4 separate regions of the Homo sapiens genome follow, and regions 1, 2 and 4 are each reported to be linked to region 3. The links are microRNA targets in miRTarBase. Many come from high-throughput screens and were not tested one by one. Region 3 holds a microRNA gene; each other region holds the end of a gene's coding sequence.

Evidence for each region. The annotated mature microRNA hsa-miR-762 reads GGGGCUGGGGCCGGGGCCGAGC and lies in region 3 at 4,177-4,198, shown strand. An mRNA with a match to its seed (bases 2 to 7 or 8) in the 3' UTR can be bound and repressed. Matches are read on the target gene's strand: a 7mer-m8 pairs with bases 2 to 8, a 7mer-A1 pairs with bases 2 to 7 and ends in A, and an 8mer does both.
Region 1: miRTarBase lists COL1A1 as a target of hsa-miR-762. Seed matches in the 3' UTR shown: 7mer-m8 at 1,705-1,711, 8mer at 2,156-2,163, 7mer-m8 at 2,161-2,167 and 7mer-A1 at 2,260-2,266.
Region 2: the mRNA of CDC37 is a reported target of hsa-miR-762. Seed matches in the 3' UTR shown: 7mer-m8 at 782-788.
Region 4: miRTarBase lists SLC12A7 as a target of hsa-miR-762. Seed matches in the 3' UTR shown: 8mer at 2,044-2,051 and 7mer-A1 at 2,141-2,147.

The regions. Positions count from the first base shown.
Region 1 is chr17:50,179,566-50,186,565 of GRCh38, reverse strand. It overlaps COL1A1 (collagen type I alpha 1 chain), which reads left to right. Exons shown (of 51, transcript NM_000088.4): 49 at 59-249; 50 at 546-788; 51 at 918-2,465. The coding sequence ends at 1,064. Among named protein-coding and RNA genes, the nearest start is that of SGCA, 17 kb to the right of the region's middle. RefSeq lists enhancers at 1,183-2,173, 3,749-4,644, 5,104-5,398.
Region 2 is chr19:10,385,202-10,392,201 of GRCh38, reverse strand. It overlaps CDC37 (cell division cycle 37, HSP90 cochaperone), which reads left to right. Exons shown (of 8, transcript NM_007065.4): 8 at 496-1,069. The coding sequence ends at 651. Among named protein-coding and RNA genes, the nearest start is that of TYK2, 8.1 kb to the right of the region's middle. RefSeq lists enhancers at 3,308-3,367, 2,947-3,447, 5,610-5,669, 5,750-6,139.
Region 3 is chr16:30,889,775-30,896,774 of GRCh38, forward strand. MIR762 (microRNA 762) reads left to right here and starts at 4,129; the gene lies at 4,129-4,211. BCL7C (BAF chromatin remodeling complex subunit BCL7C) reads right to left here and starts at 4,303. Exons shown (of 6, transcript NM_004765.4): 1 at 4,079-4,303; 2 at 3,438-3,516; 3 at 3,066-3,174; 4 at 2,812-2,973. The coding sequence starts at 4,170. CTF1 (cardiotrophin 1) reads left to right here and starts at 6,840. Exons shown (of 3, transcript NM_001330.5): 1 at 6,840-6,894. The coding sequence starts at 6,870. MIR762HG (MIR762 host gene) reads left to right here. Exons shown (of 3, transcript NR_110942.1): 3 at 4,774-5,446. RefSeq lists enhancers at 3,260-3,892, 3,431-3,760, 5,504-6,009, 6,010-6,513 and a silencer at 4,141-4,620.
Region 4 is chr5:1,046,571-1,053,570 of GRCh38, reverse strand. SLC12A7 (solute carrier family 12 member 7) reads left to right here. Exons shown (of 24, transcript NM_006598.3): 23 at 89-222; 24 at 1,120-3,187. The coding sequence ends at 1,211. Among named protein-coding and RNA genes, the nearest start is that of MIR4635, 13 kb to the left of the region's middle.

The DNA of each region.
Region 1 (7,000 bases), not on the chromosome of region 3:
ACCATATGGTGCTGGCTGCTCCCTTTCCCTGACTCCATCTTGCCCTGCCCTACCACAGGAGAGTACTGGATTGACCCCAACCAAGGCTGCAACCTGGATGCCATCAAAGTCTTCTGCAACATGGAGACTGGTGAGACCTGCGTGTACCCCACTCAGCCCAGTGTGGCCCAGAAGAACTGGTACATCAGCAAGAACCCCAAGGACAAGAGGCATGTCTGGTTCGGCGAGAGCATGACCGATGGATTCCAGGTGCGTGAGCTGGACCTCAGAGCCAGTGTTAGGAGATGGGCTAGCCCAGTGCTCAGAAGGGACATGAAGTCCTGGAGTAGGTCTCTGCTAAGGGTGATGGACAGAGCTGGGCTGGGAGGCAGGGGTCTCAGGTCCCTGATAGTGGTTCAGACACAGGCTGCCGATGGGCAGGTGGTGCCTCCTCTCGATATAACGGTGCATTGGGCAGCTCTCTGAGGACCCTGGACAGGGAGGCCAGGCAGGACTAGAGGTTCCCGCATAGCGGCTCACTCTTCCCTCTCTCCCCTCCCCTGCAGTTCGAGTATGGCGGCCAGGGCTCCGACCCTGCCGATGTGGCCATCCAGCTGACCTTCCTGCGCCTGATGTCCACCGAGGCCTCCCAGAACATCACCTACCACTGCAAGAACAGCGTGGCCTACATGGACCAGCAGACTGGCAACCTCAAGAAGGCCCTGCTCCTCCAGGGCTCCAACGAGATCGAGATCCGCGCCGAGGGCAACAGCCGCTTCACCTACAGCGTCACTGTCGATGGCTGCACGGTGAGTGCCCAGAATCCCCAGGCAGGGCCCCACCTCTCCGGCCTTGGGCTTTTTGGCCAGGCCATAGTGCCCTCTCTCCATCACTCCCACGTGGTAATGCCCCCTCCCGTTGTCTCCGCCCCACCCCAGAGTCACACCGGAGCCTGGGGCAAGACAGTGATTGAATACAAAACCACCAAGACCTCCCGCCTGCCCATCATCGATGTGGCCCCCTTGGACGTTGGTGCCCCAGACCAGGAATTCGGCTTCGACGTTGGCCCTGTCTGCTTCCTGTAAACTCCCTCCATCCCAACCTGGCTCCCTCCCACCCAACCAACTTTCCCCCCAACCCGGAAACAGACAAGCAACCCAAACTGAACCCCCTCAAAAGCCAAAAAATGGGAGACAATTTCACATGGACTTTGGAAAATATTTTTTTCCTTTGCATTCATCTCTCAAACTTAGTTTTTATCTTTGACCAACCGAACATGACCAAAAACCAAAAGTGCATTCAACCTTACCAAAAAAAAAAAAAAAAAAAGAATAAATAAATAACTTTTTAAAAAAGGAAGCTTGGTCCACTTGCTTGAAGACCCATGCGGGGGTAAGTCCCTTTCTGCCCGTTGGGCTTATGAAACCCCAATGCTGCCCTTTCTGCTCCTTTCTCCACACCCCCCTTGGGGCCTCCCCTCCACTCCTTCCCAAATCTGTCTCCCCAGAAGACACAGGAAACAATGTATTGTCTGCCCAGCAATCAAAGGCAATGCTCAAACACCCAAGTGGCCCCCACCCTCAGCCCGCTCCTGCCCGCCCAGCACCCCCAGGCCCTGGGGGACCTGGGGTTCTCAGACTGCCAAAGAAGCCTTGCCATCTGGCGCTCCCATGGCTCTTGCAACATCTCCCCTTCGTTTTTGAGGGGGTCATGCCGGGGGAGCCACCAGCCCCTCACTGGGTTCGGAGGAGAGTCAGGAAGGGCCACGACAAAGCAGAAACATCGGATTTGGGGAACGCGTGTCAATCCCTTGTGCCGCAGGGCTGGGCGGGAGAGACTGTTCTGTTCCTTGTGTAACTGTGTTGCTGAAAGACTACCTCGTTCTTGTCTTGATGTGTCACCGGGGCAACTGCCTGGGGGCGGGGATGGGGGCAGGGTGGAAGCGGCTCCCCATTTTATACCAAAGGTGCTACATCTATGTGATGGGTGGGGTGGGGAGGGAATCACTGGTGCTATAGAAATTGAGATGCCCCCCCAGGCCAGCAAATGTTCCTTTTTGTTCAAAGTCTATTTTTATTCCTTGATATTTTTCTTTTTTTTTTTTTTTTTTTGTGGATGGGGACTTGTGAATTTTTCTAAAGGTGCTATTTAACATGGGAGGAGAGCGTGTGCGGCTCCAGCCCAGCCCGCTGCTCACTTTCCACCCTCTCTCCACCTGCCTCTGGCTTCTCAGGCCTCTGCTCTCCGACCTCTCTCCTCTGAAACCCTCCTCCACAGCTGCAGCCCATCCTCCCGGCTCCCTCCTAGTCTGTCCTGCGTCCTCTGTCCCCGGGTTTCAGAGACAACTTCCCAAAGCACAAAGCAGTTTTTCCCCCTAGGGGTGGGAGGAAGCAAAAGACTCTGTACCTATTTTGTATGTGTATAATAATTTGAGATGTTTTTAATTATTTTGATTGCTGGAATAAAGCATGTGGAAATGACCCAAACATAATCCGCAGTGGCCTCCTAATTTCCTTCTTTGGAGTTGGGGGAGGGGTAGACATGGGGAAGGGGCTTTGGGGTGATGGGCTTGCCTTCCATTCCTGCCCTTTCCCTCCCCACTATTCTCTTCTAGATCCCTCCATAACCCCACTCCCCTTTCTCTCACCCTTCTTATACCGCAAACCTTTCTACTTCCTCTTTCATTTTCTATTCTTGCAATTTCCTTGCACCTTTTCCAAATCCTCTTCTCCCCTGCAATACCATACAGGCAATCCACGTGCACAACACACACACACACTCTTCACATCTGGGGTTGTCCAAACCTCATACCCACTCCCCTTCAAGCCCATCCACTCTCCACCCCCTGGATGCCCTGCACTTGGTGGCGGTGGGATGCTCATGGATACTGGGAGGGTGAGGGGAGTGGAACCCGTGAGGAGGACCTGGGGGCCTCTCCTTGAACTGACATGAAGGGTCATCTGGCCTCTGCTCCCTTCTCACCCACGCTGACCTCCTGCCGAAGGAGCAACGCAACAGGAGAGGGGTCTGCTGAGCCTGGCGAGGGTCTGGGAGGGACCAGGAGGAAGGCGTGCTCCCTGCTCGCTGTCCTGGCCCTGGGGGAGTGAGGGAGACAGACACCTGGGAGAGCTGTGGGGAAGGCACTCGCACCGTGCTCTTGGGAAGGAAGGAGACCTGGCCCTGCTCACCACGGACTGGGTGCCTCGACCTCCTGAATCCCCAGAACACAACCCCCCTGGGCTGGGGTGGTCTGGGGAACCATCGTGCCCCCGCCTCCCGCCTACTCCTTTTTAAGCTTTTTCTTTCTTTCTTTCTTTTTTTTCTTAAATTCTTGCTTCCTCTTCCCCCCTCTTCTCCGTCCCTTCTCTTTCCCTTCACCTTCTGCCTGCTCCTTCCCAGAGGCCCTGAGAAGGCGAGGCCCGGAGGGAAGGTGACTGTTCGGCTCCCCCATCTCAGGTAAGGGGGACAGCGAGTGTGGTCAGCGGGGGACAGAGAATCCAGGGCGTCAGAAGTCCAGAGAGAACCAGGCACCCGGAGCCAGGGAGACAGCGAGACGACAGCTGGTCACCTCTCTCACCTCATCTCAGGTCTAAACCCAAAAAGAACAAAAAGCCCGCACTCCTCCCTAAGGTCTCCAGAGAGATGGACAAGTCTGTAGATACCATCCATCAGCAATACTAATATCGTGATGTCATTAAGTATTCATGGCCGTTCATTATGGCCTTCAATAATTCATCATTAGCACTTCTACCACACTTAGGACAGTGTAGAAAGGGAATCAGTGTAGAGAGGATAAGAATGATGGCATATAAATGAAGGCTTATTCATATGCAAATTACCCAAAGTTGTGTGATGCCTATCCATCTCTCTTTCTCTCTTTTTTTTGAGACAGAGTCTCACTCTGTCACCCAGGCTGGAGTGCGGTGGCGCAGTCTCAGCTCACTGCAACCTCCGCCTCCCAGGTTCAAGCAATTCTCATGCCTCAGCCTCCCAAGTAACTGGGATGACAGCCATGCACTACCACGCCCAGCTAATTTTTATATTTTTAGTAGAGTCAGGGTTTTACCATGTTAGCCAGCCTGGTCTCGAACTCCTGGCCTCAAGTGATCCACCTGCCTCAGCCTCTCAAAGTGCTGGGATTGCGGACATGAGCCACAGCACCAGGCTCCATCTCTTGATCAATGTGTTGATTGCTTGGTGATGCCTGCCATGCTGCCCAGGAAACCCTGTCCACTTGGACCTCTGGGACTTTAGGACCCTGGCTGTCCAGGCCACATCCCCATCTGCCCTCGTGGGGGACCCAGGGACATCCTGAGCCTGGCATCCAAGGCTCTACCTGGCCACTACCCACCTGCCCAGGCTCACTGTCCCCTCCCCTGCCCACATCTGTCACACCAACCAAAAAGGGTGGCCAACAGTTCTCACAAATGCACTGCATTTCCCCACTTCCAGGCCTTCTAGATGTCCTTTCTCTCTGCATGCTCAACACCCTACTGTCCGGGCCATGCTCAAATGTCTCATTCTCTTCCCATTCCCTTGCCCAACCCAGCCTGAGCTCAGCCCCTCTGAGTTTCCAAAGCTCTCCAGATCCACATAGCTCCCCTCGGTCCTTCATCCTAGGATTGTGGATGTGGTCATGTTTCCATCCTGTTATTCTCTCCAGACTAGAGGCCAGGTGTTGCAATGCAGGGCTAGGCAGAGTCTGTGCTTAGGTACTGGGGAGACTAAAGAGAGAGAGACTGAGCTAGAGAGGCCACCCATTAGGTGAGAGCATGGCGCTGTGTGTGCTTGGTGCACAGGAGTGAGCGAGTGTGAGAGGAAGAGCAAGTGGAAGGCCCATGGGGGAGCAGACAGCAACGGAGGGCGCAGGGCAGGGCTTTCTGCAGCAACAGACATGTCCTAGAGCTGCACCGCCCAGTGCGGTAGCCGCTAACCACATGCAGCTGTTGAGCATGTGAGATGCAGTTAGTGTGACTGAGGAATGCAGTTTCCACTTTTACTGAATTGCAATTAGTTTTACTAACTATATGTGGGATAAGGGTTACCATACGGGGCAGCAGAGCTGTAGGCAAAGGAGTGAATATGCCTCTTGTCACCTCTGTACAAATCTACATGTGGGTACGTGGGTGTGTGTGCACACGCGTGGGCATGTATGTGGACACACGCACTGTGGGTCAGGGCTGCAGCGGGGGCAGCCTTGTGTGGCAGTGCCCCATGGGCAGCTCTGAGCCTGCATCACGTGGTGTGGGGCCGGTGTGTGGTTTCAGTGTGTACAGGACAGGAGGGGAGGGGGACAAAGGGGCCATTGTGCCACATTCCCAACTCAAACCCTCCTTTCCGCTGACATCACAGCCGCCCTAAATACAGCCACCCAGACCCGCTCCCCGAGACCCTCACTATCTCCTGCAGGGTGTCACAGAGCCTGCCGCTCTGTCAGACTCACCTTTGTCTTCTCTGTGAGAAGGACCAGGCTCCTGATTTTTGGCTGATTTTTCAGTCAAGCCCAGATGGAAAATTCTAGAAAGGGAGGAGGCTTCATTTGGATTTTTAATTTCTGCTGCAATCTCAGAATCCTGGGTCCCTTTTGGGACCTAAGCCCCATCTCCTGGCAGGATTTTCTATCACCGGAATACAGTAGATTTTCCCTCCTTTTTTTTTTTTTTCCCCAGCACCTTAACTCTCAGCTTCCCAGACTTTCTCCAATGACAGAGCTGGGTGGGTGGAGGAGGAGAGGGGTTGCAAGAAAGCTTGCCGGCTGGGGTGAGGAGACTGTGTGTGGAGCAGGCGTGAGCGTGGGCCGCGTGGGAAAGAATGCGAGGCTGCCGTCAAGCCCAGCGTCCACACGAGGAGGCCTGCGATGGCGTCTGAGGGAGCAAGGTGAGTGCCACCAAGGGGTCTCTGTCTCCTGGGGGTGCCTGGTGATGAGAATGTGTCTCACTGTCTGTGCCCACCTACCTGTGCACAAATAAATGTATCTGTGTTCACAGGGGCCTATACACATGTATGTGTGTGGGTTGGGGTGGGCGGGCATCTGTGCATGATGAGGGCAGCTTCCCCACACGTATGGCAGTGAAAGCAACCCTGTGTGAACTGTGAGAACACATGGACTGTGGCATTTGGGACATATGTGTACATGGGCATGACAGAGGGCATAGGAGGGTCTGTCTGTGTGATATGGATGAATGGGGCGGGGGAGCAGAGAGGAGTGTGGGAAAAATTAGTGGGGGCTCGGTGTGGGAGGAGACCACTCTCCTGAAGTCCCCCAGCCAGTGGGAGCCCTGGTGCTGGGAAGGCTGAGTCTCCCTGTCCCCTTCCCCTGTGTGCGCTCCAGAGGGTATCAAGTCAGGCCGAGGGCATGTCCACAGTCAGGGAGGCAAGATCCTGGAAGCAGGAGGGGTCTTGTCCAGGAGGGTGGCAGGCCCTCCCCATGCAGAGATTTCAACCCTTTGCAGAGGATGTGCAAGGCAAGGCCAGGAGGGAGGTGAGTTTGGCACATGCTAATGCTGGAGAAAGTGGGATTTTCTCTGCAAAAGACAGTGGGAGGAACTGGGAAGGGGGTACTGAATGAGAAGGGACAGAGAACCATGATGGGGACTAAAACATTTTAGAGAGGGAGGCCACATACACGTGCAAGTTCTGGATGAATTCACTGCTGTGGGGCAAACTCTGCCCGCAGGCCAGGGCTTCGCTGCTGAGTTCACGGAGGCCTAGGAGAGCAGGTGTTCTGTAGAAAGCAGGGAAAGGGGCTGAGTTCTGGGTGTGAGTTAATCTGGGATGGAGATACAGGAAGAGCCATGAAACCAGCACAGCCCAATAAAGATACAACCCAAGGTGCGGATGTAATTTTTTATGATCTAGCAGCCATTTAAAAAAAGATAAAAAGGGCTGGGGGCGGTGGCTCACGCCTCTAATCCCAGCACTTTGGGAGGCCGAGGCGGGCGTATTGCCTGAGGTCAGGAGTTTGTGACCAGTCTGGCCAACATGGTGAAATCCTGTCTCTACTAAAAATACAAAAAAAAAA
Region 2 (7,000 bases), not on the chromosome of region 3:
AATATTTAGTCTGTCCCTTTACCAAAAAAAAATTTGCTGGCTTTTGTTCTAGATTGCACTATCTAAATTTAAATTAAAGTTAAATAAAATTTAAATTTCCAGCTGGGTACGGTGGCTCACGCCTGTAATCTCAGTGCTTTGGGAGGCCAAGGCAGGCAGATCACCTAAGGGCAGGAGTTCAAGACCAGCCTGGCCAACATGGCAAAACCCCATCTCTACTAAAAGTAAAATTAGCCAGGCATGGTGACAGGCGTCGGTAACCCCAGCTACTTGGGAGGCTGAGGCAGGAGAATCACTTGAACCTGGGAGGTGGAGGTTGCAGTGAACCGAGATTGCACCACTGCACTCCAGCCTGGGTGACAGAGTGAGACTCCGTCTCAAATAGGTAAAATATCAATAGGCAGGAAGCCAGCTTGGGGATGTGCAAGGGACAACGGGGACAACGGGGACCACCGGCTGGCGGCCCCACCTCATCTGCCTGCCTTCTCCTCACAGGACGCAAAGTACCACATGCAGCGCTGCATTGACTCTGGCCTCTGGGTCCCCAACTCTAAGGCCAGCGAGGCCAAGGAGGGAGAGGAGGCAGGTCCTGGGGACCCATTACTGGAAGCTGTTCCCAAGACGGGCGATGAGAAGGATGTCAGTGTGTGACCTGCCCCAGCTACCACCGCCACCTGCTTCCAGGCCCCTATGTGCCCCTTTTCAGAAAACAGATAGATGCCATCTCGCCCGCTCCTGACTTCCTCTACTTGCGCTGCTCGGCCCAGCCTGGGGGGCCCGCCCAGCCCTCCCTGGCCTCTCCACTGTCTCCACTCTCCAGCGCCCATTCAAGTCTCTGCTTTGAGTCAAGGGGCTTCACTGCCTGCAGCCCCCCATCAGCATTATGCCAAAGGCCCGGGGGTCCGGGGAAGGGCAGAGGTCACCAGGCTGGTCTACCAGGTAGTTGGGGAGGGTCCCCAGCCAAGGGGCCGGCTCTCGTCACTGGGCTCTGTTTTCACTGTTCGTCTGCTGTCTGTGTCTTCTATTTGGCAAACAGCAATGATCTTCCAATAAAAGATTTCAGATGCTCTCTGGGCTGCTGGGAGGGCCGTTCAGGCAGCCCATCTCTTGTAGGTGGGAGGGAAACTTGGTGGGATATTGGGGGCTGAGCTGTGCTTCTCTGGTCCTTTGCCCACCAGCCATCGTGGGTCCTCGCCTCACACATGCTGTTCCACAACTTGGAACAGTCTTCTTCCAGAGGCCTCAAAAGCCCCCAACCTTCAGTCTCACCCACCCACTCCCTTGTCCCTACTTGGACCTCCAGAATGCAGGGTGGCCCAAGCTGATCACCACCAGAGGGCAGTAGTGATCTGCAAACCAAGTCACATTCCCTAGGGTTTTGTGGATCTGGCGCACCTGCCCGCACCCCACACCTTTCCAGCTTCCTACAACCTTTTGGAGCAGCATCCTGGATGGACTATATCTCCCCACCCTATGGCCAGCGCTGCCCCCAAACAGATTTTTTTTTTTTTTTTTTTTTGAGAGTCCAGCTATCACCCAGGCTGGAGTGCGGTGGTGGAATCTCGGATCACTACAACCTCCACCTCCCAGGTTCAAGTGATTCTCCTGCCTCAGCCTCCTGCTGGGATTATAGGCACCCGCCACCACACTCGGCTAATTTTTTGTGTTTTTAGTAGACATGGGGTTTCACCATATTGGCCACACTAGTCTTGAACTCCTGACCTCAGGTGATCCTCCCACTTTGGCCTCCCAAAGTGCTGGGATTACAGGTGTGAGCCGCTGCACTTGGCCCCACCCCCCCAAACATTCTTGATTCTGACCACTGCCTTTTGTCCCTATGGCCTTCAGGTCCCCATCGCCTCTGGCTCTAATTCCTGCCCCAGCCTCCTCCTCATTCCCCACTACAAGTCAGCCCCTGAACAGGCAGCAGCCAGAGGGTACCTGTGAACACCCAGGTCAGGGCATGTCCCACCTCTGCTCAAAAGCCTCGCAGGACTCCCCTCCCTGGGAGCAGAAGCCGAAGTCCTCCCTGCAACTGACCAGGCCCCCAGCACCATCTGCCTGTTGCCTCGCTGCCCTGTTGTCCCCAACTCCATGCTGGCCCTTGAGCACTTGAAATTTCTCTTCGTGTGGCTTTGGGTGATGCGCTGAGCCTCAGTGTCCCTGCTCTTAGGGCTAACGTCGTCGCGCTAGTGCCCTCCTCAGGCCGTAGTGAGGGGGACAAGTGAGGTAATGGTTCAGACAACTGGCACCTGGCACTCAGATTCTCTGAACGGGGACCTTGGCACTTGCTGGCCGTCTTCAAAAGTCACAAAATATTTCTGCCACAGGAAAAGTCTTAAAGAAGAGTGCACGGCCAGGCGTGGCTCACACCTGTAATCCCAACACTTTGGGAGACTGAGGCAGGAGGATCACTTGAGCCCAGGAGTTCAAGACCAGCCTGGCTAACATGGTGAAACCCAGTCTGCACTAAAAACACAAAAATTAGCCAGGTATGGTGGCACGTGCCTGTAGTCCCAGCTACTCAGGAAGCTGAGGCAGGAGAACTGCTTGAACCTGAGAGGTGGAGGTTGCAGTGAGCCAGGATCACGCCACTGCGCTCCAACCTGGGTGACAAAGACTTATCTCAAAAACAACAACAACAACAAAAAAAAAAAACAGTGCTGGGCGCAGTGGGGCGCACCTGTAGTTACAGATACTTGGGAGGCTAAGGCAGGAGGATTGCTTGAGCCCGGGAGGTCAAGGCTGCAGTGAGCTAAGATCAAAGTACAATAAATACCCAGGTTCACATCAGTTTAAGACATGAAATACCTCCGATCCAGTAGACTTATGCCTACCTCTCCTGGGGGACATCATCTCTGAGGGGACTGCTTGTCACTCAGACCACAGATCAATGCCACTTCTCTGAGGCCCTCCTTGACCTACTTTAATTCCCCTCATGCTCAGCCACCAAACCTGCCTCACATGCCTTTCTTCACACAGACCTGTGTATTGTCACCTCCCATGTACTGTGGGTGCCACCAGAGCACGGACTTTTTCTTGCAACATACACAGTGCCAGAAAGGGGACCTTCAGGAAACATTTGCAAAAGCATTGGATAAAAACCCCTGGAATGCTGTTGTGCCCAAGCCGATCACCACCAGGGGGCAGGAGTGAGCTGCAAATCTAGTAACTTTCCTTAGTGTTTTGTATGAGTGAGAACGACAGGTAGGAGCTGCAGGGGGACTCCTGGAACCCTGATTGAGCCTCAGACACCTTCCAAGATCTTTTTATTTATTTATTTTTCAGAGACAGGGTTCTCTCCATGTTGTTCAGGCTGGATTTGAACAGAGCTGAAGCAGTCTGCTCGCCTCAGCTTCCCAAAGTGTTGGGACTACAGGCCAGTGTGCCCTGCCGAGTAAAAATTTTAATTTTTGAGCGGGGCGCGGTGGCTTACGCCTGTAATCCCAGCACTTTGGGAGGCCGAGGAGGGCGGGTCACAAGGTCAGGAGTCCGCGACCAGCCTGACCAACATGGTGGAACCCCGTCTGTACAAAAAATACAAAACTTAGCCAGGCGTGGTGGCACGTGCCTGTAATCCCAGCTACTCGGGAAGCTGAGGCAGGAGAATCGCTTGAACCCGGGAGGCAGAGGTTGCAGTGAGCCAAGATCGCGCCACTGCACTCCAGCCTGGACAACAGAGTGAGACTCCGTCTCAAAAATAATAATAATAATAATAATTTTTGTTCATCATACACATTTTGGTGTTAATTTCAGTTTTTCAAAATACTGCATTCCTTGTTATTGAAGATTTTGTTTGTATTTTGTGAGACTGAGTCTCACTCTGTCGCCCAGGCTGGAGTGCAGTCGCATGATCTCGGGCTCACTGCAACCTCTGCCTCCCAGTTTCAAGGGATTCTCCCTCCTCAGCCTCCCAAGTAGCTGGGATTACAGGCGCACTCCACCACACCTGGCTTTTTTTTTTTTTTTTTTTTGAGACAGAGTCTCACTCTGTCGCCCAGGCTGGAGTGCAGTGGCATGATCTCGGCTCACTGCAAGCTCCACCTCCGGGGTTCACGCCATTCTCCTGCCTCAGCCTCCCGAGTAGCTGGGACTACAGGCGCCCGCCACCACACCCGGCTAATTTTTTGTATTTTTAGTAGACACGGGGTTTCACCGTGGTCTCGATCTCCTGATCTCGTGATCTGCCCTCCTCGGCCTCCCAAAGTGCTGGGATTACAGGTGTGAGCCACTGTGCCCGGCCCTTTTTTTTTTTTTTTTTTTTTTTTTTTGTGAGATGGAGTCTTGCTCTGTCGCCCAGGCTGGAGTGCAGTGGCCTGATCTCAGCTCACTGCAAGCTCTGCCTCCCGAGCTCACGCCATTCTCCTGCCTCAGCCTCCTGAGTAGCTGGGACTACAGGCGTCTGGCACCACGCCCGGCTAATTTTTATGTATTTTTAGTAGAGACGGGGTTTCGCTGTGTTAGCCAGGATGGGTTTGATTTCCTGACCTCATGATCCACCTGCCTCAGCCTCCCAAAGTACTGGGATTACAGGCGTGAGCTACCGCACCCGGCCTAATTTTTGTATTTTTTGTAGACACAGGGTTTCACTATGTTGGCCAGGTTGGTCTCAAACTCCTGACCTCAAGAGGACTGCCCGCCTTGGCCTTCCGAAGTGCTGGGATTACACACATGAGCCACCATGTGTGGCCCCCCCCTTTTTTTTTTTTAAGAGATGGGATCTGGCTCTGTCACCCAGGCTGGAGTGCAGTGGCACAATCATAGCTCACTGCAGCCTCTAACCTCTGGGCTCAAGTGATTCTCCTGCCTCAACCTCCTGAGTAGCTCAAATTACAGCCAAGAGACACACACTGCATCTGGCTATCCACCACCAGTCCTTTTATTTATTTTTTTTTTGAGACCGAGTCTTGCTCTGTTGCCCAAGCTTAAATGCAGTGGCACGATCTCGGCTCACTGCAACCTCCATCTCCCAGGTTCAAGCGATTCTCCTGCCTCAGCCTCCTGTACAGGCATGCACCACCACACCTGGCTAATGAAGTGTATTAACTCATTTGATGTCCCTGACATGCCTCTGGGTTTGGGACTAAATAGTCACATCTTGCAGAGGAGGAAACTGAGGCACAGTGGGGTTAAGGGGCCGCCCAGGATCACACAGTGATGGAGCTGGGGCTTGAACTCAGCCCGTCTGGTGCCAGCCTTCATGTGTGTAAGTTACTCCTCTGTATCCTCTCAGGCCAGCACCGAGTGTCCCATTTGGGGCTGCTCCTGAGAATTTTCTAGAGAACACAGGTTCACACACGTGCCCAAAGGAGCGTAGAATTTTTGTGGAAAGATTCCCAGGAGGCTGAGTGCGGTAGCCTCATGCCTGTAATCCCAGCACTTTGGGAGGCCAAGGCGGGTGGATCACCTGAGGTCAGGAGTTCGAGACCAGCCTGGCCAAGATGGTGAAACCCCGTGTCTACAAAAAATACAAAAATTAGCTGGGCGTGGTGGCAGGCGCCTCTAATCCCAGCTACTCGGGAGGCTGAGGCAGGAGAATCCCTTGAACCCAGGAGGCAGAGGTTGCAGTGAGCCAAGATCGTGCCATTGTACTCCAGCCTGGGCGACAAGAGGAAAAACTCTGTCTCAAAAAAAAAAGATTTCCCAGGAAATCCATCTCATGGTTGTTTTGAGGAGGAGACTGGCTGTTCCCTGAACTTTCTCACTCATGAAAACACAAAGGTATTTTACTTTTAATCCATCAACTCTTGGCTTTTCCCAGGTCCCAGGGGGCTCTGAGGAGGCCCCTCCCTGCAGCCCTTGCAGAGCCAGGGGAAGCCCCCAGCTTTTGTTCCTTCTGAGAAACCCGCCGTAGTGGCGTGGCCAACTGTCCTGGCCTGCCCAGGACTGTCCCAATTTTAGCATGGAAAGCCCCCCATTGGGGAACCCCCTCAGTCCTGGGAAACCCCCTCCTGTTAGTCACATGTGGGGTCTGGGGCCTCCCTTATGGACCAGGTCTGAGTTTGGGCAGGAGGCGCCAGGCCTTGGCAAAACAGCCTCCTTAGCCTCTTTTCTTCAATTGTCAAGTGGGGGTGCTGATACCACTTGCAAAGAAACTGAGAAGAGGCCAGGTGCAGTGGCTGGTGCCTGGAATCCCAGCACTGTGGGAGGCCGAGGCGGGCGGATCACGAGGTCAGGAGATCGAGACCATCCTGGCTAACCCTGGTGAAACCCCGTCTCTACTAAAAATACAAAAAATTAGCCGGGTGTGGTGGCGGGCACCTGTAGTCCCAGCTACTCGGGAGGCTGAAGCAGGAGAATGGCATGAACCTGGGAGGTGGAGCTTGCAATGAGCCGAGATCACGCCGCTGCACTCCAGCCTGGGCAACAGAGTGAGACTCCATCTCAAAAAAAAAAAAAAAAGAAAGAAACTGAGAAGACCCAGAGATGGCTAAATACCCACGCTCGGCCCCAGTGTGCAGGCTGGGAAAATGTCAGCTTTATTTATTTATTTATTTATTTATTTATTTATTTATTTATTTGATAGGGTCTTGCTCGGTTGCCCAGGCTGGAGTGCAGTGGTGCGATCACAGCTCACTGCAACCTCAACCTGTGGACTCAAGCGATCCTCCCACCCCAGCCTCCCTAGTAGCTGGGACTACAGGCGTGTATCACCATGCCCAGCTAATTTTTAAATTTTTTTTGTAGACACGAGGTTTCACTATGTTGCCCAGGCTGGTCTGGGACTCCTGGGTTCAAGCGATCCTCCTGCCTCTGTCTCTCAAAGTGCTGGGATTACAGGTGCCAGCCACCGCACCAGCTCATTGTTAGAATTGATATCGTTACTGGGAGTATGACTAGCATTGTTATTATTAATCGCCTCATGTGGCATTTCCTTCTAGTTCCTTTGGGAGCGGGGAATACCGGGTCCCAGGCCCACTCGGCCCACTGTGTTCTAGCATCTAATCACGGAGCATTGCCCCAATGGCTGTTGAAAAATCTGGCACTCTCTAGGCCGGGC
Region 3 (7,000 bases):
AGAATAACAACACTAATTAGCTGAGCATGGTGATGCATGCCTGTAGTCCCAGCTACTCAGGAGGCTGACTGAGCCCAGGAATCCAAGGCTGCAGTGAGCCGTGATCACGCCTCTGCATTCCAGCCTGGGCGACAGAGTGAGACCTTGTCTCAAAAAAAAAAAAAAAAAAGCAAAGCTTAAAAAATGAAGGAAAAAGTTGTTCTGGCAGCTGTGTGGAGGTGACTAGAAGAGACCAGCTGGAACCAAAAACGGGTGAGAAATGGGAAGGCCAGGGACAGGGAGCCTAGGAGGAAGAGGTGCCAATCAGACGGGTTTGACTGCATGGAAGAAAGCAGAGCTGGCTGGGCACGGTGGCTCAAGCCTGTAATCCCAGCACTTTGGGAGGCCGAGGCAGGTGGATCACGAGGTCAGGAGTTCAAGACCATCCTGACCAACATGATGAAACCCCGTCTCTACTAAAAATACAAAAATTAGCCGGGTGTGGTGTTGTGCAGCCTGTAATCCCAGCTACTCAGGAGGCTGAGGCAGGAGAATTGCTTGAACTTGGGAGGCGGAGGTTGCAGTGAGCAAGATCGTGCCACTGCACTCCAGCCTAGGTGACAGAGTGAGACTCCATCTCAAAGGAAAAAAAAAAAGCAGAGCTGATGAGGACACAGGCCCAAGATGCTGGCTCACTGGCTGAGTTACTTCTCTGGGTCTCAGTTTCCTCATCTATAAATAGGGATCATAACAAGATCATCACCCTTATAAGGTTGTAGTAAAAATTAAATGAGAAAAAAACACGTAAAGTGTTGGCTGGGCACGGTGGCTCACACCTGTAATCCTAGCACTTTGGGAGGCCGAGGCGGGCGGATCACCTGAGGTCAGGGGTACGAGACTAGCCAGGCCAACATGGTGAAACTCCATCTTTACTAAAAATACAAAAATTAGGCCAGGCACGGTGGCTCACGCCTGTAATCCCAGCACTTTGGGAGGCTGAGGCAGGCGGATCACCTGAAGTCGGGAGTTCGAGACCAGCCTGGCCAACATGGAGAAACCTCGTCTCTACTAAAAATACAAAATTAGCGGGGCATGGTGGTGCATGCCTATAATCCCAGCTACTCGAGAGGCTGAGGCGGGAGAATCGCTTGAACCCGGGAGGCAGAGGTTGCGGTGAGCTGAGATTGTGCCATTGCACTCTAGTCTGGGCAACAAGAATGAAACTCTGTCTCAAAAACAAACAAACAAATAAACAAAAAAAACAAAAATCAGCCGGGCATGGTGGCATGCCTGTAATCCCAGCTACATGGGAGGCTGAGGCAGAAGAATCGCTTGAACCTGGGAGGCAGAGTTTGCAGTGAGCCAAGATCGTACCACTGCTCTCCAGCCTGGGCAACAGAGCAAGACTTCATCTCAAAAAAAAAAAAAAAAAAGGCTGGGCGTGGTGGCTCGTAATCCCAGCACTTTGGGAGGCCAAGGCGGGCAGATCACCTGAGGTCAGGCGTTTGAGACCAGCCTGGCCAACATGGCGAAACCCCAACTCTACTAAAAATACAAAACCAGCCGAGCATGGTGGTTCATGCCTATATTCCCAGCTACCCAGGAGGCTGAGGCAGGAGAATTGCCTGAACCCAGGAGGTGAAGGTTGCAGTGAGCCAAGATTGTGCCGTCGCACTCCAGCCTTGGCAAGAGCGAAACTCTCTCAAAGAAAAGAAAAAGAGAAAAGAAAAAAACCCAACCACGTAAAGTGTTTACCAGGGCACCTAGCACACAGTAAGAGCTCAATAAATACTAGCTGTTGTTATTCCTATTATTGTTAATCACCCCTATGACTATCACTATTATTTATTCACTCAACAGATATTTACTGAGCACCTACTATGTGTCCCATATTATTCTGAGGATACAGTAGTGAACAAGATCACATAGGGCCAGGCACAGTGACTCACGCCTATAATCCCAGCACCTTGGGAGGCTGAGACAGGAGGATCATTTCAGGCCACGAGTTCAAAACCAACCTTGGCAACATAGCGAGACCCTACCTCTACAAAAAATTTAAGAATTGGCTGGGCATGGTGGCACACACCTGAGTCCCAGCTATTTGGGAGGCTGGGGCCAGAGGATCCCTTGAGCCCAGGAGTTTGAGGCTGCAGTGAGCTATGATTGCACCAGAGTACTCCAGCGTGGGTGACAGAGACCTTGTCTCTAAAAAAAAGGGGGGGGAGGGCCGGGTGTGGGTGTGATGGCTCACACCCGTAATCCCAGCACTTTGGGAGGCTGAAGGTGGAGGACTGCTTGAGCAAGTGAGTTTGAGACCAGCCTGGGCAACATGGTGAAACCTTATCTCTACAAAAAATACAAAAATTAGCCAGGTGTGGTGGCATATGCCTGTGGTCCCAGCTACTTGGGAGGCTGAGGCGGGAGGATCGCTTGAGCCCAGGAAGTTCAAGGCTGCAGTGAGCTATGATCACACCACTATACTACTCCAGCCTGGGTGACAGAGCGAGACCCTTTCTCAAAAAAAAAAAAAAAAAAAAAAAAAAAAAAGGATCAATATGGGCCCAACATTCAGGAAACTGACATGAGAGTGAGGAGAAAGATAAACTAGTAAAAAATTAATTTACATGAAAATCTCAGACAGTGATATGTCTGTATAGATTCTAAGAGACCAGAGGAATGAGACTGTAGCTACAGGGAGATTCTGCAGGAGTCGGAAGGCGCCTTGAGGAGGGTGCACAAGACGGGGAGCAGGTATAGGGATGAGCTGGTAGGTTAGACTCTGGAGAAGACAGGACTTAGAGGAGAGAGCTCCTGGGAGGTACCTGGTCCTACCTCTCTCTTGGCCCAGCCGTGGGGGCTGAGCCTCCTCAGGGACCCCTTCTGGGGGTCCGGCAGGTGACACAGGGCGGCTGGGCTGGGGGGTGCCCCCAGGACTGGGCTCTGTGCCCTTTTGCAGGGAACCTTCCGAATGGAAACTCTGGTTGCTGTTCTCATCTGCGGGAGCAAGAGCCGAGATGGTTGGCCTGAGATCCCTAGTACACTCCTTCAGTCCCCACAGCCCCCCGCGTTTCAGGATCCCTACCTACCATTAAGATCCAGCAGGATGAGAGGGCCACCCCCTCGGGGACTGGCGCCCCTGCCCCGACGTTCCCGGCCACGGGATCTCTCTGCCCCGCCACCTGCCCGCCTTCGCTCCTGGGGGTTAGAGGATTAGGGTCAGAGCTCTTGGAAAGCCCCACCATACACCTAAGGAAACTGAGGCACTGAGAAGCAAAAGGGCTCAAACTCAGGGGGTGTGGAGCAGAAAAGAGGGCAAAAGGGGAGGAGCTGCTAATGATGGTTCCCGTCTGTCCTGCTGCATCTGAGGTCTCGGGGAGCTGGAGGTAGAGGTCAGCGTGGGGAGGAACTTGCCTGAGGTTGCACAGATGCAGGGCCTTGTGGGAATGGGGGTTGCTCACCTCCTCCTGGGGATCCACCACTGGCACCCACTTGAAGATACGAAGGGAAGTGTCGCCCACAGTCACCCATCGCTTCTCCCTGTGGGAGGGTGGGGGGCTGGGTCAGAGAGGCCTGAGGGGAGACCCACCCCCCTAGGAGCTGGACACATCTGGGGGTACCTGCAGAGGTTGAGGAGGCACAGGAGGATAGCAACAGTTTTGCTAATGGGGCATAGTTACATGGAGGAAGAGAGTCCTGCAAACCCCAGGGCATAGGCGGTGGGTGCCTCTAGAGAGAGGATATGATTTGGGGCCCTGGCTCTGCGGACCCCTGGGGCACACATGGGGGGCGTGGCTATGGGCCTGGCCCGGGATCAGAGCCCTGCAGATCCTGGGGCGCACCTGCAGGAGGGGTGTCAAAGCTTTAGGGGGCGGGGCACAAGAGGGGGCTCCCGCTCTGGGAGGACACGGCTGGGGATCACGCTTTGTAGACCCCCAGGAGTAGCCAGGCGAACGGGGACAGAGCCCTGTGGATCCAGGGCAAAGCTAGTGGGTGGAGATACACCGAACACCCGGGGCCCAGAGCTGGCGAGGGCAGCGTAGACGCCTTTGGTGCTGGTGGTCCCGCTGTGTCCCGTCCCTGGCCCCCGAGCAGCGCTCACCATCTCCGGACCTTCTCGATGGTCGCCATCACCTTCTTGATGTCATCCTTGGCCCGGCTCCGGGTCTCGGCCCGTACAGTCCGGCCGGCCATGCTGGCGGGGCTGGGGCCGGGGCCGAGCCCGCGGCGGGGCCGCCTCCCGTCCGGCGGGCTCAGGCTCCGCGCCAGGCCCGGGCGCCGCGCTCTCGGCCTGCCGTCCCCCCTGGAGTTGGCCGCGCCCTCTCTCGTCCCCAACGCCTCCGCAAGTCCCCGCCCCGTTTCCTGCCGCCGCGCCCCGCCCCGGCCTGTCCCCGGAGCGGCCCGGTGGCGCGGGCGGCCAGAGCCCAGGCCTGGAAGCCCGGCCGGCCCCGCCCCGACCCGGGCCCGCCCCCTTGGAGCGCCTGGACGCTCAGCGCCCCCTGCCCGCCGCCGAGAGCGGGAGTTGGGGACGGACGCGCGAGTTGGGGACGGAGAGCGGGAGTTGCGACCGGACGCGCGAGGCAGGGCCGAGGCCGTGTGTTCAGACCACGTGGGCGCGGGGTGCGCGACAGGGTCTGTGTCCTGCGCTGCGTGAGCCGCGGTGGGTGTCCGCGAAACGCTGTGTGTGGAGTGCGTGCGTGTGTCCGCCCTCGCCAGGCTGTTGGTCTACACCGCCCAACTTACTCAGTCATCCATTCATTCAACAGTCTTGTTAACTGAGTGCCAATTACGCTCCAGGCGCTGCGAATACGAGTGGGTCTCCACCACCAGAATGGCTAAAGTGAAAAAGACCGCACCGTGTGGAGGCGAGAAAGTAGAGCGACTGGACCTCTCTTGTATTTCTGGGGGAGTGTAAATTGGTAGAGACATTTTGGAAAACTGGCAGTTTTCTAATGAAGCCGAACATATGCCACCTCTGTGATCCAGCAGTTCCACTCCTAGGCTGTCAACACCCAGCAGAAATGTGTAGGTGTGAGCATCAAGAGGGTGCATGGGAATGTTCAGAGCCCTTTCATAACAGCCCCAAACTGGAAATAACCCATCAACAGAATGGAAAATGAATGATGCCCTACTCACTACCATGCACATAGACACAGCAACGGGATTGACATGCCCGGCTACACACAGCAACATAGACAAGTCGCATGATGAAATCTTGAGTGACAGAAGCCAAATGCAACAGTACATACTAGATGGTTCCAGGTGTATTACGTTCAGAACCAGACAAAACTAATTTATAGTGCACCAAAGTCAAGATAGTGATCGCCCTTAGGGTTGGGAGGGGACGAGGGGAGAGCTTCTGGGAGCTGATCCAGTTCTGTTGTGTAATCTGGTGCTGGTTCCCTGGGCATATGTATTCTGTGAAAATCCATCACATGACTTAAATAAAATGTACATTACTTAAATAAAATGAGTGTGTCTTTGTTGACTTTATTTGAGGCTGGCTTGTCAGCAGATAAGACCATGTCAAAATTTGTGCTGCTGTTGTGTGTGTGTGTGTGTTTCAAGGTGTGGCTGTTGTGTCTGTGAATTTGGGCGTGACCATGTCCAGAGGTTAAGGGTATAAGGGGTTAGGAGCATGGTTAAGACAGCATTTTTTTGAGCCAAGCTGCTTAGGTAAAATCCCAGTTGTGCCACACCTAACTGTGTTACCCTGGACAAGTCACTTCTCTCTATTCCGCATCTATAACACAGGAGTTAGTTAATGTGCATATGGCTCTTAGAACAGTGCCCAGCACATGGTAAATGCCCAATAAATATTTACAGTTAATACACATGTGATTGTGGGCCCTACCAATTGTCTGGCTCAATTCTATCTGCTGTGCCCTCTCCAGTTAAACTCTTTCTTCTTTTATTCCAGCAATTGCTCACGGCAATACACACACCCACTCACACGAACACACGCACACACATGCACGCGCACATGCACACACGCGCACACCTGCACACTCACACGCACACAAATCCACTCGCACACACGCATGCTCACACGCACACACGTCCGCATGCACGCACACACGCAGACACACGCAAGCGCACACACACACGGGCCTCCTCGTCTTCATTCACAAACCCCATTAGCTTCTGTTGTCTATGGGCTTCCTCGACAGACCGCGAGCCCCTCGCGGGGGCCAGAAACCAAGTATGGATCATCCCTATGTGCCTTCCTTTCCGTCTACACCAGGTTAATGGGGTTGACGTATGGGTGTGACTTCCTGTCCAGGTCTCTGTAGCTTGTTCTCCTGGGGGTGGGGGGCGGGGTGTGATTGTTACTAGGCCTGCTAAGAAGAGGAGAGCAGTGTATCTGTCTCCCTCCTGGTGGGTGTGACAATGAGATTGGAAGCCATCTAAGATAGGCCAGGAGATGTATGTCTGGACAAACATGCCCCAAGCCTGACGGCCCCCATCGTAGCCTCCCTCGCAAGCCGCGCCCCAGACTAGAGAGAGGGCCTGCGCATTCCTGTCCTGCCAGTCCGGCAGTTCCCTCTCCTGTCTCCTCAGCTTTACACCCAAAGCAGCCGCTGCCTCAGGTCCAAGCCTGAGCCCGCGGCAGAACATTGGGCTGCCTCCCAGGCCCTGACACCCCCAGCCCCGAGGTCCTGTCCACCCGGCAGACAACTTGCCTTCCCCCTCGGGCCCCTTCCCCCACTAGGCCCCACGGACGAGGAGCTGAGCTCAGGGCCAAGGAATCCTGTCTCAAAAGGGGGGGTAGGATGAAATGTTTGGGGTCTGGGCTCTGATTGGCTGCGCCCGGGCCACGCCCCCAGCCCTTTCCCCTTTCTCCCCCCTCGAAAGGGGGGCGTGAAGGGAGCCGGGATCAGCCAGGGGCCAGCATGAGCCGGAGGGAGGGAAGTCTGGGTAAGGGGCTGAGGGACCGGACGCCGGGTCGCTGAGGGGCGCAGGAGTCAGAGGGATTGGGAGCTGGGGGTCTGGGTTTCCGCCACCCCCGGGTCCGGGAGGGGAG
Region 4 (7,000 bases), not on the chromosome of region 3:
AATGCAGCTCATCAGGGCTCAGCTCAGCCTCGTGTCCGGAGCGTGGGGTGCACCCGCCGCCCGCTGACCGTGCCCACCTCCCCTGCAGGGACCAGTCCAACGTCAGGCGGATGCACACGGCTGTGAAGCTCAATGGCGTCGTCCTCAACAAGTCCCAGGATGCGCAGCTGGTCCTGCTCAACATGCCAGGTCCTCCCAAAAACCGGCAGGGAGACGAGAACTGTATCCTTTCTTGCAGTGTGCCTGCTGAGCGTGCGGGCACCCCCTGGTGGCTTCTCGCTAAGACCTGGGTTTGTGGGTGCTGGGAGTGAGGCTGGCTTCCCGCCTCTCCTTCAGCCCCAGGCTCTGGGAGCTACGACCGGGATGCAGTGGGGCTCTGAGCCCAGTGGTGACCGGGCCAGAGTTGGGGCCAGCCCTGGCATTGGTGTGGGGGAGGGAGGGCCCGCCTACAGTACCAGCCCCACTGTCCCCAGGTGCTCAGGGCTGCCCTGGGGCTGGGAGGCTCCCTGTCATGCATCCCCACAGCAGCTGTGCATTCTGGGACCTCCGCTGGGGCTCAGCCCCACCCTGCGCCGACAACGGTGGGAGGTGAGGAGCCCAGCTCTCGGCTTTAAGGCCACAATTGGTCGCAGCTTTGGGAATTTGTGCTTTGGAAGGAGAACTCCGCAGTGCATCTGGGCGTATTGGCACAGACAGGGTGACGCCTGGCACATCCCTGCCAGGTTGGCACCAAGAACTGGGGCCAGTGAGGGCATGTCCTCCATGCGTCCTGATCGGAATCCGTGGCCCAGGTCCCCTGTAGGCTGGTGAGGACCCAGTCCCGTGGCTGGGGTTCCCTGTCGGGTGGGGTCAGCACCGTGGGCTGTGTCGCTGTCTCTGCTCGTCCTCCCTGTGGCCACGGTGCTCCCTCTCTTTCCCGAGCACTGGCCCCTCTCTCCCCTGCCCTGCTCCTCCCCGCCTGGGGGGTCTCTCTAATCCCCACCTCTCTTTTCACCTTGGCTCTGGGTTTCTCAAACCAAATCTTAGCTAACCAGGAGAGGATAAACCTCACTCCTATCACGATTTCAGCTACACACGCTCAGGTAAGATCAGCTGTGGCCTTAACTCTGTTGACCACAGACATGGAGTTTCTTGAAGTCCTGACCGAGGGGCTGAACAGAGTCCTCCTGGTCAGGGGTGGCGGCCGGGAGGTGATCACCATCTACTCCTAATGCCCAACAGCATCACGGCACTCTGGGACAGGCACGGAGGACGGCGTGGGCAGCCTGGGCCTGGGCTTGGCCCAGGGAAACAGACGGCAGACACACCTGTCCCCCAGTGATGCCGCCCAAGCTGCCCATGGGGCTTCCTACGGAAGTTTCTAGGCCCGTCACCTAGGGCTCTCCTGTTCAGCCTTAACAGGCTCAGCAAATCAGGGCGTGGCTGGACGATTTCCTTGCATCTGAGGGCAGACGCTGCTACCGGAGTGACCTGGACGTGGCCAGATCTTCTCGCAGGTCACAAGAAGCCAGTGAGCCCTTGCCTTGGTTTCTGGAAGTTCTTTTCCTTGGCTGGATTTACCCAGTGGTTAGGTTGCATTTCTACCCCATCCAGAACATTCTTGGAAGAGCACCCGGAGCTGAAGCTGTCCCTGATGATGAAGGTGAAACGTCAGCCCTGGCCATGGCTCCGCTCAGGGCCCCGGTCACCTCCGAGTCACTCTGTTCCTTGACTGTCTTTGTGTTTCTGTACCTCAAGGCACTGAAGCTGGAGGACTCTGTCCATGCCCGTGTCACCCTCGTGTGGGAGCCTCTGGGCTCGGCAGGTCCACATTTCATGAGCTGAGGCGTGGGCCAGGGCCATCTGGAAAGGGAACTCGGCTTTTCCAGAACGTGGTGGATCATCTGTCGGGTGTGTGGTGAACACGTTCAGTTCATCAGGGCCTACGCTCCGGGAAGGGGCCCCCAGCTGTGGCTCTGCCATGCCGGGCTGTGTTTGCAGCTGTCCGAGTCTCCATCCACCTTTAGAAAACCAGCCACTTCTTTTCATAAGCACTGACAGGGCCCAGCCCACAGCCACAGGTGCGATCAGTGCCTCACGCAGGCAAATGCACTGAAACCCAGGGGCACACGCGCGCAGAGTGAACAGTGAGTTCCCCCGACAGCCCACGACAGCCAGGACTGCCCTCCCCACCCCACCCCACCCCAGGAGCACGGCACACAGTTCAGCCTCTGAGCTGGCTCACACGTGCCATCCCCACCCCGGTGCTCCAGGGAAGGAGGACACGGACCCGACGTGGGAGGTCCTCAGGCAGCAGTGGCGCCTGGTGTCAGGTCTGTCTGGCTGAGTCCCGGGCGTCCCCTGCCATGGCCTGTGCCTTGCATGGAGGCGGCGGTGGCACTGAAGAGATAGCTTTCAAGGGCCCAACACTTTGCACTTCGGCTGGCTGTGAGTTTCTGCTTTGTAGGTTGTGGTCACATTTGCAGGCTGCGGGCAGTGGCACCGACTTGGGCCTCCCTTTCTATGTGGCATATTTATTTATTTAAACACCCCAGGGAGTTACGTGGTAACAAGGTTGTCCATAAAGAGGTTGCTTCTATATACTAGAGGCCCCAGATGGCCAGGCCTTGGGCTACGTCTGGCTTGCATGGTCTCCCAAGGGAATCAGCCCCATCAACAAAGTTCAAATCGGGGCAGAGGCTGCACTTGTGCCCCCAGATGTTTCTGAGGAGCCAGACTAGGGCTGGCATTGCTGTAGAGTGACGGCTGCTGCCCAGAGCGTGTCCCAGACATCACAGCGGGGCTCAGCAGTTCCCACAGCCTCTGCCTGCCTTGGCTAAGCATGAGTTAAGCAGCAAAACGCTCCTCCATGTCTGGATGGGGCCGGCAGGTCCTGTGTCCCCTGCACCTGGAGGAGAGCAGGCTAGAGGCACAGCGGCCACATGGTGCTGGCTCTGAACGTTGGTTGGTGGCTGGAAAACAGCCCTGCTTCTGAGGGCCGCTCAGTTCTGCACACGAAACCACCTCCTGAGGGCTCAGCTCTGCCCCCGCCCTGGGCTGCAGCCTCTGCACGCAAGCACCAGGCATCCTTTGTGTTGTCAACTCCGTGTAACCAGTAACTACAGCCATTTACAATTGACTCCGTTTCCTTTTGTAGGTTTCCCTGTCTGTCTGTGTTAGTAGAAAAATAAAATCCTATGAAATCTGAGTACGTTGAAGAATCTCTTGAGTCTCATTCAGCATGAAAGACAGCTGGAGAAAATGTACTGGCCGCCCCTTTTCTAGCAGGAGCGTCAGGGCTGACCAGCCACAGCCAACTCAGGTGGCTGAAGAGTGACCATATGAATTGGACGAGGGCTTCCAAATCATGTCATCGGCTTGGAAATGACCTTACCCCAAACTTCCTAGTGCTGTGTGTTGAAGTGACCCAATCTCTGTATTTCTGAGACAGTCTCTGTTGCCTAGGCTGGAATGCAGTGGCGTCACCTCAGCTCACTGCAACCTCCGCCTCCCAGGTTCAAGCTATTTTCCTGCCTCAGCCTCCCGAATAGCTGGGATCACAGGCGTGTACCACCACGCCCAGCTAATTTTTGTATTTTAGTAGAGATGGGGTTTCACCATGTTGGCCAGGCTGGTCTCGAACTGACCTCAAGTGATCTGCCTGCCTCAGCCTCCTAAAGTGCTGGGATTACAGGTATGAGCCACCATGCCCGGCCATTCGATTTATAATTTAATTTATATAAGGATGGAGGCACCAGAGAGTCCGCCATGAGTGGGGACAGCGTGTTCTAACTCGTGAGATGCCAACTCACACCTGTGATGGTCACAGCCAAAACCAGAGAATCGCGGGGAGGACGTGCGGAATCGGACCCCTCTTGCAGGGTTGTAGCTGCACGGGAAGGGCCTGTGGTTCCTGAAAGTGTGAGAGACAGAGCCGCCCCTTCCCCGGCAGGTCCACTCCTGGTGTGTGGCACAGCCTCAGGAACGGGTGCACGCAAGTTCACAGCAGCCAAAATGGATGCAGCCCGAGAACATGCTGAGTCCATGTGGGCCGTGCCTGCTGCAGGCCTCTCAGCTAGAACCAGGAGCCAAGCTTGGAAGCCTCACGCTCGGGAGGAAGCTAGACACAAAGGGTCTCACGCTGTGGGACTGCACTTAACACGAAATGCCAGAGTGGGCCAGGCACAGAGGCAGGGGGTGCACTGGCGGGTGCTGGGGGTGGGTCAAGGGGAATGGGGGGAGATGGGGGATGGGGGGAGGCTGCTTACAGGGTATGGATTTCTTTTTGGGTGAAAATGTTCCGAAATGGCTGTGGTGAAGCTTATGTGACTGAACATGCTGGAACACTGCCTCGTGCACGACGAAGGGCGAATTGTGTGTGTGAAGCTGCCGGGCACCGTGTCCAGTGGGCCTGACACATGGTGGACAGGAAGGGACACGGCACAGGAGGGTGGCGGGTCCTGCTCTGGCTCTCGGGTCACAGGAGAGTGACCGTGAGAGCAGCGTCGTCCTCGGACCCCCGAGGGGTGAGTGCTGGCTGCACCCAGGCATCCACACCCGGGACTCAGAGCACGGGAGCGGCCGGCTGGGGTGGGCCTACTGTCCTGAGGGCCAGATGCTCACAAATTCCAGCAGGGAGGTTTGGAGACCCACTGATGCCTACACATCTGGGACCAGGGCCCAGCCAGAAACCCCTAGGTGTCCCCTTCCCTGGGACCCCAAAAACCAGGCTGCTTCCTAGCCTTGGCCGGTGCTTCCCAAGGAGCAAGAACTCGGCTAGAGCAGTCACCCACTCATTCACACACTTAACTCGCCCATTCACACGCTAACTCGCCCACTCATTCACACACTAACTTGCCCACTCGTTCACACACTAACCCACTCATTCACAAACCCACCCACTCATTCACACACTAATCCACTCACACACTAACCCACTCATTCACACACTAACCCACTTGTTCACACACCCACTCAACTCACCCACCCATTCACACACTAACTTGCCCACTCATACACTAACTCACCCACTCATTCACACACTTACCCACTCATTCGCACACTCATTCACTAACCCACCCACTCGTTCACACACCCTCATTCACACACTAACGCCCACTCGTTCACACATTCACCAACTCATTCACACATTAACCCACTGACACACACTAGCCCATTCACTAACCCATTCACACACTAACCCACTCGTTCACACACCCATTCACAAACTCGCCCACTCGTTCACACACCCACTCATTCACACACTAACCCACCCACTCATTCACGCACTAACCCACTCATTCACACACCAACTCACCCACTCATTCACACACACCCGCTCATTCACAAACCCACTCGTTCACACACCCACTCACACTAAATCCCTCATTCACACACTAACCCACTCATTCACACACTCACCCACTCGTTCACACACCCATTCACACAACTCATCCACTCATTCACACACCCATTCACAAACTCGCCCATTCGTTCACACACCCCCTCATTCACACACCCTCATTCACACACTAACACACTCACACTAACCCATTCACACACTAACCCACTCGTTCACACACCCATTCACACACTCATCCACACAATAACCCACCCATTCATGCACTAACCCATTCACACACCAACTCACCCAGTCACACACTAACCCACTCATTCACATACTAACCCACTCGTTCACACACCCACTCACACACTAACTCCCTCACACACTAACCCACTCACTCATTCACACAATAACCCACCCACTCATTCACACACTAACCCACTCATTCACACACCAACTCACCCATTCACACACTAACACACACTAACCCACTCGTTCACACACCCACAAACTCCATTCACACACTAACCCACTCATTCACACACCTATTCACAAACTCACCCACTCGTTCACACATCCACTCACACACTGACCCATTCACACACTAACCCATTCACACACTAACTCGCCTACTCGTTCACACACTAACCCACTTATTCACACTAACTCATTCACACATTGACCCACCCACTCATTCACACATTCACACACTAACCCGACACACACCCACATTCACACACGAACTCACCCATTCACACACTAACCCACTCGTTCACACAACCATTCACACACACACTCGTTCGACCATTCACACACTAACCCATTCACACACTAACTTGCCCATTCACACACTCACCCATTCACACATTCATACACTAACCCACCCACTCATTCACACACTAACCCACCGACTCATTCACACACTAACCCACTCATTCACACACTAACTCATCCATTCACACACTAACCCACCCACTCATTCACACACTAACCCATTCATTCACACACTAACTCACCGACTCATTCACACACTAACTCACCCACTCGTTCACGCACTAACTTACCTACTCATTCACACACTCATTCACACACTAAACCGACTCATTCATACACTAACCCATTCACAAACTCACCCATTCATTTGCACACTAACCCACTCATTCACACACTAACCCACTCATTCACACACTAACCCACTCATTCACACACTAACCCACTCATTCACACACCCACTCATTTACACACTAACCCACTTGTTCACACACCCGCTCATTCACACACTAACTCACCCATTCACACACTAACTCTCCCATTCATTCACACAAACACCCACTCATTCACACACCCACTCATTTACACACTAACCCACTCGTTCACATACCCGCTCATTCACACACTAACCCACTCATTCACACACTAACTCGCCCATTCATTCACACTAACTCACCCATTCACACACGAACTCATTCACACACTAACCCACCGACTCATTCACACACTAACCAACTCACACACTAACTCACCCATTCATTCACAAACTAACCCACCCATTCACACGCTAACTCACCCATTCATTCACATAGTAACTCACCCACTCCTTCACACACCCACTCATTCACACACTAACCCATTCACACACTAACTCGCCCACTCGTTCACAAAGTAACTCACCCACTC